Linked DNA regions of Homo sapiens: region 2 is linked to region 1. Evidence: fine-mapped expression QTL. Tissue or cell type: monocytes after Pam3CSK4. Region 1 holds a variant in brackets; the other region holds the start of a gene. All regions are shown on one strand. Distances are between the middles of the regions.

What was found. PIP is the estimated chance that this variant, and not a neighbour inherited with it, causes the effect.
Region 2: PLEKHG6 starts here. The variant in region 1 is fine-mapped to the expression of PLEKHG6 in monocytes after Pam3CSK4 (Quach 2016, PIP 0.95). The same link has a PIP of 0.9 or more in monocytes.

The regions. Positions count from the first base shown.
Region 1 is chr12:6,331,850-6,340,189 of GRCh38, forward strand. It overlaps TNFRSF1A (TNF receptor superfamily member 1A), which reads right to left. Exons shown (of 10, transcript NM_001065.4): 2 at 2,242-2,395; 3 at 1,888-2,016; 4 at 1,518-1,667; 5 at 1,220-1,298. Among named protein-coding and RNA genes, the nearest start is that of TNFRSF1A, 6.1 kb to the right of the region's middle. RefSeq lists enhancers at 2,473-3,343, 5,086-5,955, 5,272-5,361, 5,354-5,648, 5,422-5,471. The variant G/C (reference allele first, on the strand shown) is at 3,948.
Region 2 is chr12:6,306,655-6,314,654 of GRCh38, forward strand. PLEKHG6 (pleckstrin homology and RhoGEF domain containing G6) reads left to right here and starts at 4,028. Exons shown (of 16, transcript NM_001384598.1): 1 at 4,028-4,194; 2 at 5,505-5,710; 3 at 6,975-7,130. The coding sequence starts at 5,573. RefSeq lists enhancers at 2,842-3,562, 6,184-6,493 and a silencer at 3,925-3,974.

The sequences.
Region 1 (8,340 bases):
AATTAGCCAGGCATGGTGGCACGTGCCTGTAATCCCAGCTACTTGGGAGGCTGAAGCAGGAGAATTGCTTGAATCTGGGAGGCAGAGGTTGCAGTGAGCCGAGATCGCGCCACTGCATTCCAGCCTGGGCGACAGAGCAGGACTCTGTGTCAAAAAAAAAAAAAAAAAAAAAAAAGAAGATTAATGGAAAATAAATAGTTTTGTGTCAGACGTGTTGTAGGTTTTGTTTGTTTCTTTGTTTTTGGTTCTCACAAATTCACCAAATGAATGTCATTATGCTTACTTTAAATATAAGAAATCTAAGGCCCAGGCCAGGCGTGGTGGCTCATGCCCGTAATCCTAGCACTTTGGGAGGCTGAGGCGGAAGATCGCTTGAGCCCAGGAGTCCGAGGCCAGCCTGGGCAATATAGTAGGACCCTGTCTCTACAAAAAGTAAAACATTAGCTGGGTGTAGTGGTGTGTGCCTCTAATCCCAGCTACTCAGGAGGCTAAGGCAAGAGGATGGCTTGAGCCCTGGAGGTGGAGGCTGAGCCACGGTTGCACCACTGCACTCCAGCCTGGGTGACAGAGTGAAACCCTGTCTCAAAAAAAAAAAAAAAAAAAAAACACCAAAAGAAAAGTCAGGCTCAGAGATGTTAAGAAACTTGCCCAACGTCACATAGCCAGTAAGTGGCTATGCTGGGGTTCAAACTCTGAGAGCCCTCAGAGTTTATTCTTTGCAAGTGAGTGACAAGAACAGCCTCTGTGGAGCCAGGAGTAAGGAGGCCTGGACAGTGACTAATGAGGAAATACCATATTGCATCAAACCTAAGACGCCATCAAGAATAAAAGGCACTTTTCTTTACATTACTACCCAGACGCAAACAGAGCTGCCAATTCAACCATGATGAGTCACCAGTTATAGGAGGTTTGATTTCAGAGCTATAAGAGTGTATGTCCTAGAACCAATGAGCTATCGTAGATCCAAGAATCTACATATCTGAGTTGGAAGGGCTGCCAGCCCTTGGGGCATGATCTTCCATCCTCAAAGACTTCTTCAGATTTGAAGAGCAAGGGGAAGGACTGCCTGGTGTCTTAACGAAGTGTCTCCTACTCAGCCAGTAGGACCCTGAGCACTCTGGGGCATCCTGGCATCTGTTGCCCAGCTAATGGTTCCCACCAGTCACCCGTCCCAACCCATGCCACCATCCAGTGCCCAGCAGCTCTCAGAGATACTCACTTACTACAGGAGACACACTCGTTTTCTCTTAGAAAGAAACCTGCATGGCAGGTGCACACGGTGTTCTGTTTCTCCTGGCCTGTAGGGAGAAGTGCGGCACAGCTAAAGGAGAAGCGCCTGCACCCCCACCCCACAGGACAGAGGAAGTGACGAGGGACAGGGTGGGGGCGGCCAGAGAGGAGTTGGTTGTCAGACCCACAGAATACAGGAGGGGGAAGGAAAGGAAGTGCCACCGCATGGGGAAGGGGCCAACCCCTGGGGTGGGGAGAGGGCTTGGCCTCAGGAGAGCTGCGCTCACAGGAGAGGTGCACGGTCCCATTGAGGCAGAGGCTGCAATTGAAGCACTGGAAAAGGTTTTCACTCCAATAATGCCGGTACTGGTTCTTCCTGCAGCCACACACGGTGTCCCGGTCCACTGTGCAAGAAGAGATCTCCACCTGACCCATTTCTGGTGAGGGGAGAAGATGGGGTATGAGTCCTGCATCCTCCTGTCCCTGCATCCCCTTCCTGACATACCCCTAAGTGTGTGTCTCTGTAATACACACTCACATCCATGCAGTGTCCCACCAAAACACACACCTTCCTGCCCACACCCACCAGCCTGCACATAGACAGGCACCCACACACCACTCAAGACCCGCCTGACTCTCCTGCCTGTGCACACTCACCCTTTCGGCATTTGGAGCAGCTGAGGCAGTGTCTGAGGTGGTTTTCTGAAGCGGTGAAGGAGCCGCTCTCACACTCCCTGCAGTCCGTATCCTGCCCCGGGCCTGGACAGTCATTGTACAAGTAGGTTCCTGTGAATGGGGCCGCAGAGTTAGGCTGCGGGTGAGAACACAAGGAAGGAGCCCCATGCTAGGGACAACAGCCAGGGCCGATTCCCTGAAGTCTCTAGGAGAGGAGGGAGGGAGAAAATCCCAGCCCAGGAGAGACAGCAAAGTTAGGGAAGAACAACTGGAAGAAGCAGAGAAAGAAGCAGCACCCCAGACCTGAGGGCATTCACCGTTTCCACTTGCCCCTACCTTTGTGGCACTTGGTACAGCAAATCGAATTATTTTGAGGGTGGATATATTTTCCTTGGGGACACACACTATCTCTCTTCTCCCTGTCCCCTAGGTGAGGGACCAGTCCAATAACCCCTGAGGGGTATATTCCCACCAACAGCTCCAGGAGCACCTGGGGAAGAATCAGATAGAGGAGACACCATCAAGAGAGGGAGGGATGGGAAGCTTAGGGGTAGCAGATCTAAAACTTCCCTGGCTCAAGTCCTTCCTCAGTGAAACATTCCGCCCAGGCCACGCCACTCACTAAGTTTAGAGTTCTTCCTTGAAACTTAGACAGTTGGGGCCATACAATCTGATGCTTAATTGTTCTCTAGTTGTCCTGTGTGTTCATTTTTGTTCCCTCAACTCAAAGCTAGTAGGCCCCAGATCTAAGCTGTATTTTTTTTTTTTTAGGCAGGATCTTGCTCTGTTGTCCAGGCTGGAGTGCAGTGATGCAATCACTGCACCCTCCACCACCCACGCTCAAGCAGTCCTCCCACCTTAGCCTCCTGAATAGCTGGGACTACGGCCGTGAACCACCATGCCCAGCTAATTTTTTTTTATTTTTAGTAGAGGCAGGGTCTTGTTACGTTGCTCAGACTGGTCTCAAAATCCTGGGCTCAAGTGATCCTCCCACCTTGGCTTCCCAAAGTGCTAGGATTACAGGCGTGAGCCCAGCCCTGTATTTTATCCTTACTGTGAAATCCCCCACAGCAGCTAACAGTGCTGGACACAGGGCAGATGTTGAAAGGATGTGTTTTTGATTGGGAATTGGCAGGTTACTTCAGTGATGGCCCCTTCTTCCAACAAGCAGCCCTAAAGATTGGGGCGGTGTTTCTCCATCTGGGTGCTGGGTTCACCGTGTGATCGCTTTGCGAACATTCACAGAGGTAAACAATGAGGATCTATGCACATCCCAGGAATATGTTACACCATGAAAAGCTTTCTGAAAAAGTCAGCTGGCGGTGGGGGCGAGTGATGTTCCCGTGAGCACCACTCCTGGGGAGTGGACAGAAGAAGGAAGTTTATTTACATGTTTGTATCAAACCTCAATCTGCCTCCGCCCTCACATTCCCTGGCCCATCCCCTCCACCTCAAAATTTACAAACACCCGGGGTTGGCAAGGACAAATGGGGAGGAGAGTAAAAGGGAAAGGTTGGGGATCCTGCATGGGTAGACGGGGGACAAAGTTGAGACGGGGGCAGGAGTGGGCAAAGGTGTGCAGGACATAGGCAAATAGAGCTGGCCAAGGCTAGCGACCCAGCTTGGATGACTGTCAGGTCAGAGCTGAGGGCGTGCTGGGGAGTCCTGGAGCCCCCTGCACACCATGGCATTCTGGAAGGTGTGCTTTGCAGTCTCAGGCCAACCCCACAGCAGCTAAATGGCTTGTCCTGTTCCGGCATCAGTGCCAGGAAAGCAAAGCCAGGAGTGAATATTTAGCTCTAACTTGGACTTTGATCTCTGCCAGCTTCATTTCTGGTTTTCCCTGGGCTTCATTTTTTTTTTCTACTATAAGAGACACTTTGTGTAAAGATAAGAGGGTGTCCTCAATGTCTGTTAAACACTGGGGAGCAACTGACTCACCAGATCACAGAAACCCTAGGGCAGGGAAGGAGGGTCAGGCAGCCCACAGCCACCCAGCCTCACCAACTCCACATTTCGGAGCAGGAGGCCAGTCACCCTGA[G/C]TCAGCCACGGGGAGACGCTGCAGCTGTAAGCTGTGCAGGCCCGGAAGTTCAAGCCTCAGCCGCAAACAGGGGAAGCCACACACAGAAACACAACAGCAGCCCCCGCAGGTGGAGGCGTGTGCCCCTGCTCAGAGGACAACAACCTTCCCCTGCCCGCACCAGCCAACACCGTGCCACCTCTGCTGAGAACAGGACTGGGGCTTCCAGGGCAACAGGAAGGGTTTGGGGTGGTGATGGGAAGAACTTCCCAGTCCTGAAAGTGTGGTTCCTTTCCCCGAAGAAGCCACTGGAGCACCTAAGGTCACTGGTACTTTGAATCCCATCCAGGGGGCTTGAGGCAGAGTCATGATGAAGAACTGGGGGACGCCAGCCCCAGACAGCCTTAAAGGGAGCTTTTCAGGGACCTCTGGCCAGTGGGGGATGAGCCTCCCTGGAGGGAGGGAGGGAGAGAGGCTTTCTCAGGCCACGTGTTCCCTTCTCTTTCCAGCACTCTGGGGGTTAAGTCAGATCCGGGAAAGGGAAATCTTTTCCCAGCAACTCCGCCCCAGTGACTCAGGCCAGAGGGAGGGAGACCTAGGGAGGGGAGAGGGAACTAGCAGCTTCCCCAGCTCCTCAAGGGTCATGAGTCAGCAGAAAGGCAGAAGGCACCAGCCTGCATGCAAGTGGGACTCCATCTAATCCCTTCTTCCTATGGCCAAGTCCCTCCTTCCCATCCCCACTCAACCCCCATCCATCCCCTCCCCATGCAAAGAGCCAGGCCACAGACCCTTGTCCCACTTGGCCCACATGTTCCGGGAAATGCCTCCCTCTCCCCATTCCATCCCGAAGGGAAGTCTCCCTCGACCCTGGCTTCCGCCCATCAGGTCTGTGCCCTCCCTTCCCTGAGGGCCACTTGGCTCCTCCTAGCCCCTCAGCGGCCTTTAGCTGAGGCCCCGCCCCAGCTCCTCCTCCCAGTTCAACAAGTCTCCAACAGCTAAACCCATTCCGTGAGCTCTCACTCCATCCCCCAACACTCCCCAGTCCCAGCAGGAAGCAAGCCAAGGCTGCCCTCCCACCCTGGGTTCACCGCATTCCCACAGCCTGGCTGGTTCTGACCAGTTGTGCTGGGTTTGGGGGCCTCCCTGGGGTCCCCAGACAATCCTTAGGAAACAAGGCCAGTTCTGAGTCTCCACAGACCCTCCCCAAGCCCACTGGCAATACAGGAAAGCCTCCAGAGCCCTGAACACCCACTTCCAGGAACGAGGGAGCAGGCAAGAAGGGATGCCGGATGGAAGAACCAGCCCTGCTTCCTAGGCTTCCCCTGGCCCCCAGAATGCTCCAGGTCAGCCCTCTCTGATCCCTAGGAGCCAGGGCCCTCAGACTCCCCACCACTGGGCACCACTGCTGGCACCAGCTGGCCCCAGTAAGCCCAGTCCTCAGCAGTTGCGTAAATGAAGCAAAACAGGAGAAACAGGAGGTGAGCTCTTTAGGCCCAGACTCCAGCCTGGAGCAGAAGGGCAGGAAGCTGGGGTGCCTGTGGAGAGACAGTTGAGGGGGTGGCCCAACACCCCTCCAACTCCCCCACAATTTCCGCCAGAGGAGGCTTTAAAGTGTGACTTCCTGTGCTGGGGCTGCAGAGTGGGGAGGCGACGCTGAGATCGGCCTTGTGGTCTGACCCCGATCCAGCCACCTTGCAGGGACCCAATTAGTCTTCCTTTCCCCCTCATTCATGTGTCTGTTCATTTAATGTCAAGGTGTTGGGGGAGGTCGTGGCAGCTTCTCCTCCAAGGGCCCAGTTGAGATCCCATCTCCCTCCCGTGAAGCCACCATTGACGATGTCTGTTTCCTCCACCCCGGCTCCTTAGACCCATAGTCCCTGTGAACTCGAAGCACGTGAACTGACCCTATCTACTTTTGGCTCTTATCATAATATGGTTATGTTGGGTGACAGATATGATCTCCCCAAAGTGACCACGAACCTTATAAGATGAGAGATCAAAAAATGTCTTGGTCAGAAAGTGTCTTATCCTCCCCTGGTGTCCTCTCAGCTCCCAGAACCAGACCTCCAGACTGGGAGCAGATAAATATGGATCAACTGATCGATCTAATGATACATCTGTCTTCCACTCTAGTAGAAGCCAGTGATTCCCAAAGAGGGAGGTGAGGAGACAGCACCCCTGGTAGGAATATATTTATCTCCGGGGGAGAGTTTTCAGACCATCCCCCCACCTCCCCACACACAAGCACACACACCCTTACTTAAGAGTCTGGTGTGCTCCTCTCCTTTTGAGAACCACTGATGAGTGAACACAGTGTGTCTGAATGATACAAAGGCAGAAAGAAGTTGCAGCACCTCTCCTCCAGCTTGGTAGGCGCACCCTTCCACATGACCATTTCCCTGACCCTTAACATGCCCCAGACGGAATTCATCCATCTCCTCACCTAGACAAATGACACACCATCGACTTCCCGGACGAATGCTGAGAACTTGCCACGCTCTCTCCCCAGGGCCCCATCCCTATCCCTGCCGCCATCCCATGTGTCAGTTCATCTTGCGAGGCCTCCCCCTGTGATCTCTCGGTCCTCTCCGCATTCCTGGGTTGCCTCACACCTGGGTTATTGCAAGTGTCTTCTAGCCTCTCTCCTGCTCCCATCCGTCCTACACACTTTTTAAATCTTCATTCAGGCTTTAACTTGCACGCACAAGTGTGTGAACCTTCCTCTCCATCTCCAGGGCCTGGCTCCAAACAGCATTTCCATGGTCATGGAAATGATCTGAAGACTTCCACAGATGCCTCACTACTTTTTTTTTTTTTTTTTTGAAACAGGGTCTCACTCTGTCACCCAGGGTGAAGTGCAGTGGCACAATCATAGCTCACTGCAACCTTCACCACCAGGACGGAATGTAGTGGTGTGGTCAGGGCTCACTACAACCTCCACCTCCTGGGCCCAAGCCGTCCTCCCGAGCTCAGTCTCCCGAATAGCTGGGATGACAAGCACGCCCCACCATGCCCCGCTAATCTTTGTATTTTTTGTAGAGACAGGGTTTTGCTGTGTTGCCCAGGCTGGTCTCGAACTCCTGGACTCAAGCAATCCACACACCTCGGCCTCCTGAAGTGCTGGAATTACAGGCATGAACCACAGCACCCATCTGAGATGCCTCACCTCACTTCTAATCACAGTCTGGGCACAGAATGTGCCCTAGGAGAACAGCTTCTGAATAAACGAATGAATGAATTCCTCCACCTGGAACCATATTCAACACTCTTCCTCCATCCTCTCCCCCACTCCCTCTAATTCTCCCATTCACATTTCTTAGTGTTTCTCAACATGGTTTTTCCACTCCCGAACCAAGGTGTCTGGCTTCCTGCCACCCTGCCCATCAACACAAAATCCCATCTCTCCATTCCTCTCCTCTTCCTCACATCAGTATCCAACTCTGCTTCCCTCCTTTATAGCTACCCTGACAGGCAGTGACTTCAGATGTCAGCTCCACATCCACTTTTCTATGAGGCTTTCCCTCCGCCATCCCATCTGACACATCTCTTGTTCCTTAATTCCTTCAGCAAATAGTTAAGGGGCACAGTTAATGTGACAGGTCCCGTATGGGTGCTAGGGATGCTGAGGTGGATAATACACAGCTCGTGCTCTCAAGAGCTCTCACTTGAGTCAAAGACAGTCAGTTGTAGGCACTGAGATCTATACAGGGAGTGCTGCAGTTGCACAGTGAAGGACACTGAAGCAGCGTGGGGAAGCTCCTGAATTTTCTGGAGCTGAGCGCAGGAGCTGAGACCTGCTAAGCAAGGAAAGGCAGTGGACTAAGGCTCACCTCCTTCCCCAGTTCCTCCTCCTCCCAACTGGTGCTCCAGGACACCACATCACAATGCATTTGTGGATATTTTCCTCGGGATTGCTCTGAAATCATTTTTCACTGTAAGCCATCTTGGTTACTAGGCTGTAAGCTCTTTGAGAGCAGCAAAATCCTGTTTGCTTTGCCACAGTCTCTCCTGTATCATTCTTCCCTACTCCCCTACCCCACTTCTCTCTCTCTCTCTCTCTCTCTCTCACACACACACACACACACACACACACACACACACTGTGAGCTCTGCATTGCCCACTGAATGGTGAGAAATTCAGAAGGATGTTGCATTCCCTTTGTTTTCCCTTTCCTCCAGCTCCAGGCCAGGCTTCTGTCCCTTAGGAGACATAATCCCACCTGGGCTGAAGCACCCCAGGACGCAGGCACTTCCCTTTACCTGTTCAGGCTACCTTTACCCTCTGTTTTCCCAACACAGGTAGCCACCCAGTAATTACTACTAGTCACAGCAATATAAAAACTTTATTGAGTGCTTTCTATTTGCTACAACCTATTCCCCTGATGGACTGTCAAAGCTGTGGGCAGGGATTTTG
Region 2 (8,000 bases), 25 kb before region 1:
AAGAATTCCAGGTATCTAAAAAGCAAATGTGGTTCCTTTGGGTAGGGACAGAACAGTACAGGCCAGTCTATCTGCAAGTCATTCTGTCTGGGTCCTCTAGCAAGTCAATCCAGTTCAATTCCCAAACACCATGCCAGTCTTGTGTTAGGCTGGTCTCTGCCCTCAGGCATAGGTGGCACATGCTAATATCAACTTAGTAGGGAGAACAAGAGTGGTGCCTTTTAAAGAAACATAGCGGTCAAGGCAGCTGCAAGCAGGGAGGAAAGTGATCAGCCTGGCTGCGGGATTATTAGGAAAGGCTTCGTGAAGGAGGCAGTCCTAGGAAAGACCTCGAAGGAGGTAAGTGGAGTCGGAGGACAAGGCACCCAGCTGAGGGGAACAGCTTGAGCAAAGGCATGGAGTCAGGAAAGTCGAGGCCGACCCAGGGAATGGGGACACATCTAGGGATTGAGTAGGGAAGTATAACTGAGGTCAAACTGCGGAGGTCCTGGAAGGCCACAAAGAAGGTTCGTCCTCCTAAGCCACCACCCAGAGACCCTCGGCTCGGAAGCTGGGATATTCCCAGGGAGCCAACAGGGTAGACCCTCAGGAGGCCTTTAGGGAAGTCTGCCCTTCCCCAGTTTCTTTTTAAACATGCTCTTCCCTCCTCCAGAAATGTCCTTTCCTCCTTCTCAGCCCAGCTGACTGCTACTCATCCTTCGAGTCCCAACACAAAGCTCGCCTCCTCTAGAAGCCATCCCTGGCTCCCCTATGTAGTAACCGGTCCCTCCAAAGTGTTCCCACAGCTCCTGACTTAGTCGTTCTTGGTCTAACTTAAATATCAATGTTCTTTTCGCCCATCTGCCTCCCCACTAGTCTGTAAGCCCCTAGAAGTCAGGGCCTCTTATTCTTTTCTATATTCCTACTGTCTTACACATTGCCAGTAAATGTGGAAGGAAGGGGGAGGGGACGAAAGAAGAAACGGGAAGCACCAGTTCTGGCCTGAGGCACCAGAGGCTTTGCCCTGTGGCCTGTCCTCCTGGTATTCATCTGCCTCACATGACCTGGCGCCTCCTAGCTTGAACCCTCAGTTTCTGCCTCGCTCTGGGCAGGGAGGACACAGCTCCCATTAGCTGCCTCCTGTTGCTAGTGCCTGCCAGCCCCTCATTAGCCCAGATGGTCCCCACTTCTGCCCTGAGAGATATGGGCTCAGCAGAGGTCGAGGCACAAATGAGTTTCCCTGACCTTCCTGCCTGGTGAGCCCCTTATGCCAACCCCAGGCAGTTATCCTCAGGCTGCTATTGGACAGAAGCATTTGATCCTCAGAGCTCTGACCGTGGACACACACTTTACCATCAGTTATGGGGTCAATCCAGGGGCCTAATGAGGAGCATCTTACCTGGGAGAAAGTGAGGCATATGACTCAAGCTAGACATGTGAGGAAAGGCTAGGATAACCAGGAATAAAGAGAAGTATCCAGATGGCATACTCTGGTCCAAGGACCAGATGGCCCCTAGCCTCACTTGGCAGAGGCCAAGCCTCCAGCCTCCCAATTCTTTACATTTCATTCAGCTCCCTGAGAATGCTCCCCTCAGCCTGCCATAGGAGTGTGCTCTCCGCAGCACAGAGGAGTCATGGAAGTGGAGACTGTGAGAGTGACAGAAGAGAAGAAACAGAACATGGAGGCCTGCCTCCTAGGCCACACACCTGTGCCCGGCCACACCTCTGGCTTCTAGACTCCAGCTTGCCCTGGGAACCTCTCCTCCCAGGGAGGCTGAAGACAGGCCCTGGGGCAGTAGTGGGTGGAGACTGGACCTCAACGCCTAGAGGGAAGTGAAAGGGTTAACCACCCCGCCACCCACCACCACCTGCCACTGGGCCCCTCTAGCCAGCTCACCCCAGAGCACTGTAAGCCCAGGCTTGTCTTTGGTGCTCTCTCAATTTCATCTTCCCTCTTATTCCTCCTTCCCACTCCTTCTGGGAGACACTGGGAGGAGAAGCTAGGGGCCATTGGCACCAGCTGTCTCTGGGGTGTCATTTAATACTGTCCGTAATCACCACCTCCTCTCCTGGCTTATTAACTCTTTCCCTCATGGCTACTCTTGTCATCCCTGGACATCTCTCTATCTCTGTCTAGCTCTCACCACACACACACACACACACACACACACACACACACACACACACACACACACACACAGTGAATGGGAAGAGGGAAGGGCTAGGAACTAGGCACACTCTGGTTTCTTGCCACTGCAGTTCCTTTCCCACCTGACTTCACCCCCGAAAACTAGTCCCACCACCAGCTGGGCCAGGAGCAGGAGACAGGCTGGTTCAAGGAGCTGGAGGAACAGAGGACACTTCTGAACCAGCAGAGCAATCACACAACAGCAAGCTCAGAGAAAGAGAATCCCAGAGGGCAGATTTGAGGATGGACACAGGGAATACAAAATTAGAAACTGCCCAAAGATATAGATTCCTCCTCCAAACAAAATAGAGTCACCAGAGTCCGAGTGAGGACTAGAACACTCTGATCATGTATGCGTTTCATAGCCTAGATGGGAAAAGGGAATAGAGGCCTTTTCCCCTGGCAACTCAAGGAGATTCTGCTTCTGAAAGTGTTTCCTGAACTTCAGGATGCTCTGAAGAAGTAAGGAGCCGTATCAATCACTGTTGAGTTCATTGGCAGGAAATAGACCACAGTCAGGGTGAGGGGCTGGGAGCCTCAGACCTGCCACCTGCCAACTACAGGGTCTTGGGTTTCATGGTTGTGAGATTATAATGACCACACATCCACAGGACACTTCTATCTCAAATATCCAGTGCTTCTGTCAGACGAGGTGCCATGATTTGGAGAAGTGAAAAGGTGGGGAAACCGAAGCAGGAGGATCGCTTGAACCCAGGAGTTGGAGTCCATCCTGGGCCACACAGCAAGATATTGTCTCTATTTTCTTTTTAAAAAATAAATTTTAAAAATAAAGAAAATAAAGTATGGTCCTTTCATGCAATGCCCAGCATGTGTCAGTCCTTCCACAGCATCTTTTTCTTTTTCTTTCTTTTTTTTTTTTTTTTTTTTTGAGATGGAGTTTCACTCTGTTGCCCAGGCTGGAGTGCAGTAGTGCTGTCTTGGCTCACTGCAACCTCCACCTCCCAGGTTCAAGCGATTCTCCCGCCTCAGCCTCCCAAGTAGCTGGGACTACAGGCGCCCGTCACCATGCCCAGCTAATTTTTGTATTTTTAGTAGAGTCGGGGTTTCACCATATTGGCCAGGCTGGTCTCCATCTCCCGACCTTGTGATCCGCCCGCCTCGGCCTCCCAAAGTGTTGGGATTACAGGCGTGAGCCATCGCGCCTGGCCCCACAGCATCTATTTTAGCAGCCACCGCAAGGGCTGGGTGACCCTGGTGTAGCCGGGAGTGGGCTTATTTGCAGGTGAACTGGGAGGGTGCCCCCACCTGAGTCTTAGGTCATAGGAGAAGTGCGGGTCAGGCCTCAGCTGCCTATCCCTGGAGCAAAGGCAAAGTCCAGGATAGCCTTCCAGTATCACCTTCCACCAGGCAGGCCAGCCGGTCCTCTGAGAGATAAGGCTCACACTTTGGACTCCACACAGCGACGGGGCCCCCTGCCCCTCCAGCTGGCAGGCGGGCTCCCTGCCTGCTTAGGGGTCTAGGCCGAGGCAGGGGGAGGACCGGACGGCCGGCCACTCGCCGCGACCAGCAGGAGAGAGGGGTGCCTGCCACAGGTTGTCACCCTCGCCGCCTCCCCCGGCGGCGCCCCGCCCCTTACTCAGCCCTCATTACTGCAGCGCCTCGCGGGGGTCTGGCCCGGAGTGGAGGGCGCGCGGTCCCAGCCCTCCCGCTCGGCCGGCGGGTGTCGAGTTCAGGTGCGACCGAAAAGGGGAAAGGAGGGCACCGCCACGTGAGCTGTCCTCTCCGGGGAAGGCGGTGGCTGCGTGAGGGCGGGGGCTGCTCGGTCCCCAGGGCCCCGCCCCTCTGCCCCTCTGCCCCGAGCGGTGCTGGCGGTAGGGAGGGGCCAGCCCGGTCCCCGCCCTCCTCGCCCGGACCCGCGCTGCCCGGCTCCCGCGGGCCGCTCGATCCCAGTCCCAGGCTGGGCATCGGGGCTGGCTGGCATCGCCGGGGAGCCGACGGCGACGGGGAGCCCCGCGGGCGGGGAGGGCGGCGCAGGGCAGCGGGTGCGGTGACACCTGTGGGCACAGGTGAGCGGCGGGAGGGCTACGCGGCCCGGGGGCGGGGCGGCCGGGACCCGGGGCCTGGAAGCCGGGGCGAAGGGGAAGGAAGGCCTGGCCTCCCGAAGGCGGGAGGAGGGGAGCCGGGGGCTGGGCTGAGACAGGACCCTGGGTAGGGAGCAGTGCGAGGGAGACAGCGCCCTCAGAGGGAGGACTATTGGGAGGCGGCAGGAGGGACAGCGAACGTTTCCTCCTCTGCTCCTGAATCGGAGGAAGGTAAGGGAGGGCTGAGGCAGGACCTCAGGCCCACCCGGTCGGGGCACAAACACCTGCGCAGCCTTCTTGAGCCCACCGCCCCTTAGGAGGCCTCTCCTCTTCCAGGCCCTGCCCACTCGAGGGCGGGCCCTCCCTCCAGGTTTAGGGGGGAGGGATGGAGCCCCACGCCTGGCCCCCAGCTCCATGGTGGTATTCCCAGAGTCTGGGGAGGACCAAATATATAGCCCGAAACTGGAGAAACTCTAATTCTATTTGGCTGGTCTCTAAGGGCAGTGGCCGGACAGCTGGCCCCACTCACCTCCCTGTCTGTGGTCAGGAGGGTTCAGGTAGGAGATGGGCAAGCCTTTCAGTAAAGGCCAGACAGTAAAGATTAGAGACTTCGCGGCCTACACCGTCTGTCCCAACTAGCAAGAAGCAGTCACAGGTTATTAGGAGACCAGCAGAAGAGGATGGATTCCAACAAAACTGTGTTTATGGACACTGAATTTGAATATCATGTAATATTTACTTGTCCCAAAATATTGGTGGCTTTTTTGCAGGGGGGGCAGCAGTTGTTTCAACTATGTAAATATGTAAAGGCTTACAGGCTGTACAAAAACTGGTGGCAGACTGGGCTGTCTCCAGCCACCCCCACTCCCAGCCCACCCCACCCACCATGGCCTCCCTCCAGCTTTTTCCCAAGCTTTATATGGGGAAGGGGATGGGGTTATATCTAGGTGCAAGGAGAACCCTCCCACCTGGGTGTATCCAGAAAGCCCGAGACCTGTCTGTGACCCTTGTTCCCATTTGAGACCAGTGCAGGAGCTTGTACCCCAAATATGCACACATGTGAGAGAGGAGGTACATCTCCAAGGGGCTTCCTACCCAATATGTACCTGGACCTACCCTACTCCCACCAAGTCATAGATGAGGCAGCCATGTTCCCCCCAACAAGTGACCAAGCCCTTGGCCCTCTCCTCCCCCACTATACCCTCCCTCCCAGGCCCCCTACCAGCCTTGGTCTCCCGCCTGGTGCCATTCACTGATTGGGGATGGCCCTTCCATTCCTCTTTTCTCTCTTGCAGCCCTAGGGGACCTCTTTCTCCTGGACATTGAAGATATGGCCCTTTGGAGGTGACCCAGGAGAGAAGGGATGAAGGCCTTTGGTCCTCCACATGAGGGCCCCCTCCAAGGACTCGTGGCCTCCCGCATTGAGACTTATGGGGGCCGGCATCGAGCCTCTGCTCAGAGCACTGCTGGCAGACTCTATCCCCGAGGATACCCTGTGCTGGTGAGTCCAGGCTGTGCCCCAAAAGTGACCTGGTGGGGCAGGAGGGAAGACACCTAGGCTGTGGAGTCTCTGTCCCCTTACAGGTTCAGAGGTTGAGCTATTCCTGCCCCTTACCCTACTCTTCTTTCCTGGGTTGCGGGAAAGAGGAGGGCAGTGACAGGGCCAGGCTCCAGGGATATCACACCCCAGTCCCAGCAGCTGGGCAGGAGAGGCGGAGCCAGGAGAAGCCAGGCCCTCCGAGGAGTGCTGTTAGACAGGTCTCAGACAAAGAGCTGCGGGTAAGGTCATCAAACCCCAGAGCTGGCGCCTCCCAGGCTCCCGCCTCTGCTTGGCAGGAGTTTGAGGCCTTCCTGAGATCTGCCTCTCCCTGAGTCAGGATGAAGATGAGCAAAGGTTCAGGGTGTCCCTACTCCTCCAGTGGTGGGTAGGGACAGGAGGGTGCCTGCCTTGGCTCCACCCCTGGCTCCACCTGCCTGGCTCTCCTCCAGTCCTAACCAAGCAGAGGGGTGTGGAAGCCAGGTCTGTCCCTCAGCCTGCAGGTTTCCCCTCCACCTTGAGGACAGTTCTGCTTGTGGCTGGGACATCCCCTGCCTCAATGCACGATAATTTTGCCTTTGGAGATGGGACTTTCCTAGGCTGTGGGTGAGAAGGGAGACTAGAAAGTATGTGGGGTAATTCAGGCCACAGGCAAATGAAGGAATGTGACCAGGCCTGCCCTGGGAGGAGCTGTGTGGCTGTGGCTTCAGCCTTTCACACAGAAGGGCAGCCACTCCCAGCTGGATGGGATGCAGGCTGCACGCCCCTGGGGAGAAGGCTGCACATGTGAGTGCCCTCGTCCCCATGTGTGAGGGAGGCTGGTCATAGACAAGGAGAGTTACGAGAGACCAGAATGCTGTGTGCACCACGCCTTGTCCATGCACCCCCCATGGTACGGAGAGCAGGAGGCAGTGGGGGCACACACACCAGAGCCCAGGCATGTGTGTGCTGTGCACCTGCTCGGCAGGAGGCCCCACTTCTTCCCCAGGCCCACTCAGGGAGCCAGGCTGTCTTGCCTCTGCCCACTCAGCTTAGCCTTGCCGGCAGTGGCCGCTGTGACTCAGGGCAGGAGCAGTCCACACCAAACTGGTTTGCAGGGAGAAGTGAGCCAGCCCGACTTACCAGGGTGGGGGAACAACATCTAGAGCCAAGCCTGCCCCCCTACTACCTCTCTGGGGTTTCTGGGGAAAGGGAGGCACCCCCAGAACTTCCCCTGCTCCTCTCCCAGGATCCCAGTCGCCGACGCCTCCAGCAGTATGTCCCCTTTGCCAGGGGTTCTGGCCAGGCCCGAGGCCTGTCACCCATGAGACTGCGAGATCCAGAGCCCGAGAAGAGGCACGGGGGCCATGTGGGGGCTGGCCTGCTTCACTCCCCCAAACTCAAGGTAAGGGGGTCCCTCTCCTCCCATCCCCACACATACGGCCCCAATTGTGATGGCTCCGCAGATGACCAGCAAGCTCCGGGAGCTGAGAACACAGGTCCAGGAGGCTGCTGCCTGCCAGTCAGACATGGCTCTGCCTAGGACCTCTCAGGGATATATCTCTCTTTGGTCCATGCATGGCAACCAGGGACTTTGACTTGAGACACTTTGATTAAATGTGGATAAACGATTGATATTGAGCTTTCAGTTTTTGAAAACTACCAAGTCAAATTACCAAGTTGCTGAGAGTCAGGTATGCTCTCTCTATCCTCAGTGCCACATCATCCTTCACTGCCACTGTGAGCCTCACCTCTCCTCCCAAGCCACATCCAGATGGAGTGAGTGAGGGTCAGGAGTGTCTATTGCTCACATTCTTGGTACCAAAGAAACCTGTAAAATGGGCCGGGCGTGGTGGCTCACACCTGTAATCCCAGCACTTTGGGAGGCCAAGACGGGCGGATCACCTGAGGTCAGGAGTTCGAAACCAGCCTGGCCAACATGGTGAAACCCCGTCTCTGCTAAAAATGTAAAAAAAAATTAGCTGGGTGTCATGGCGGGCACCTGTAGTCCCAGCTATTAAGGAGGCTGAAGCAGGAGAATCGCTTGAACCCGGTAGGTGGAGGTTGCAGTGAGCCGAGATTGCGCCACTGCACTCCAGCCTGGGTGACAAGAGCAAAACTCTGTCTCAAAAGGAAAAAAAAAAGAAACCTGTAAAATGTAAGCCATGCTGCTTCATAAAAAATGCCATTTTATAGGCAAATGTCAAAGTGGTGCCTGAGACCACTGGTTCTCTAAGTCTTGTTCTGATTCACTTGAAGGTCCCTCTGAAGTGTC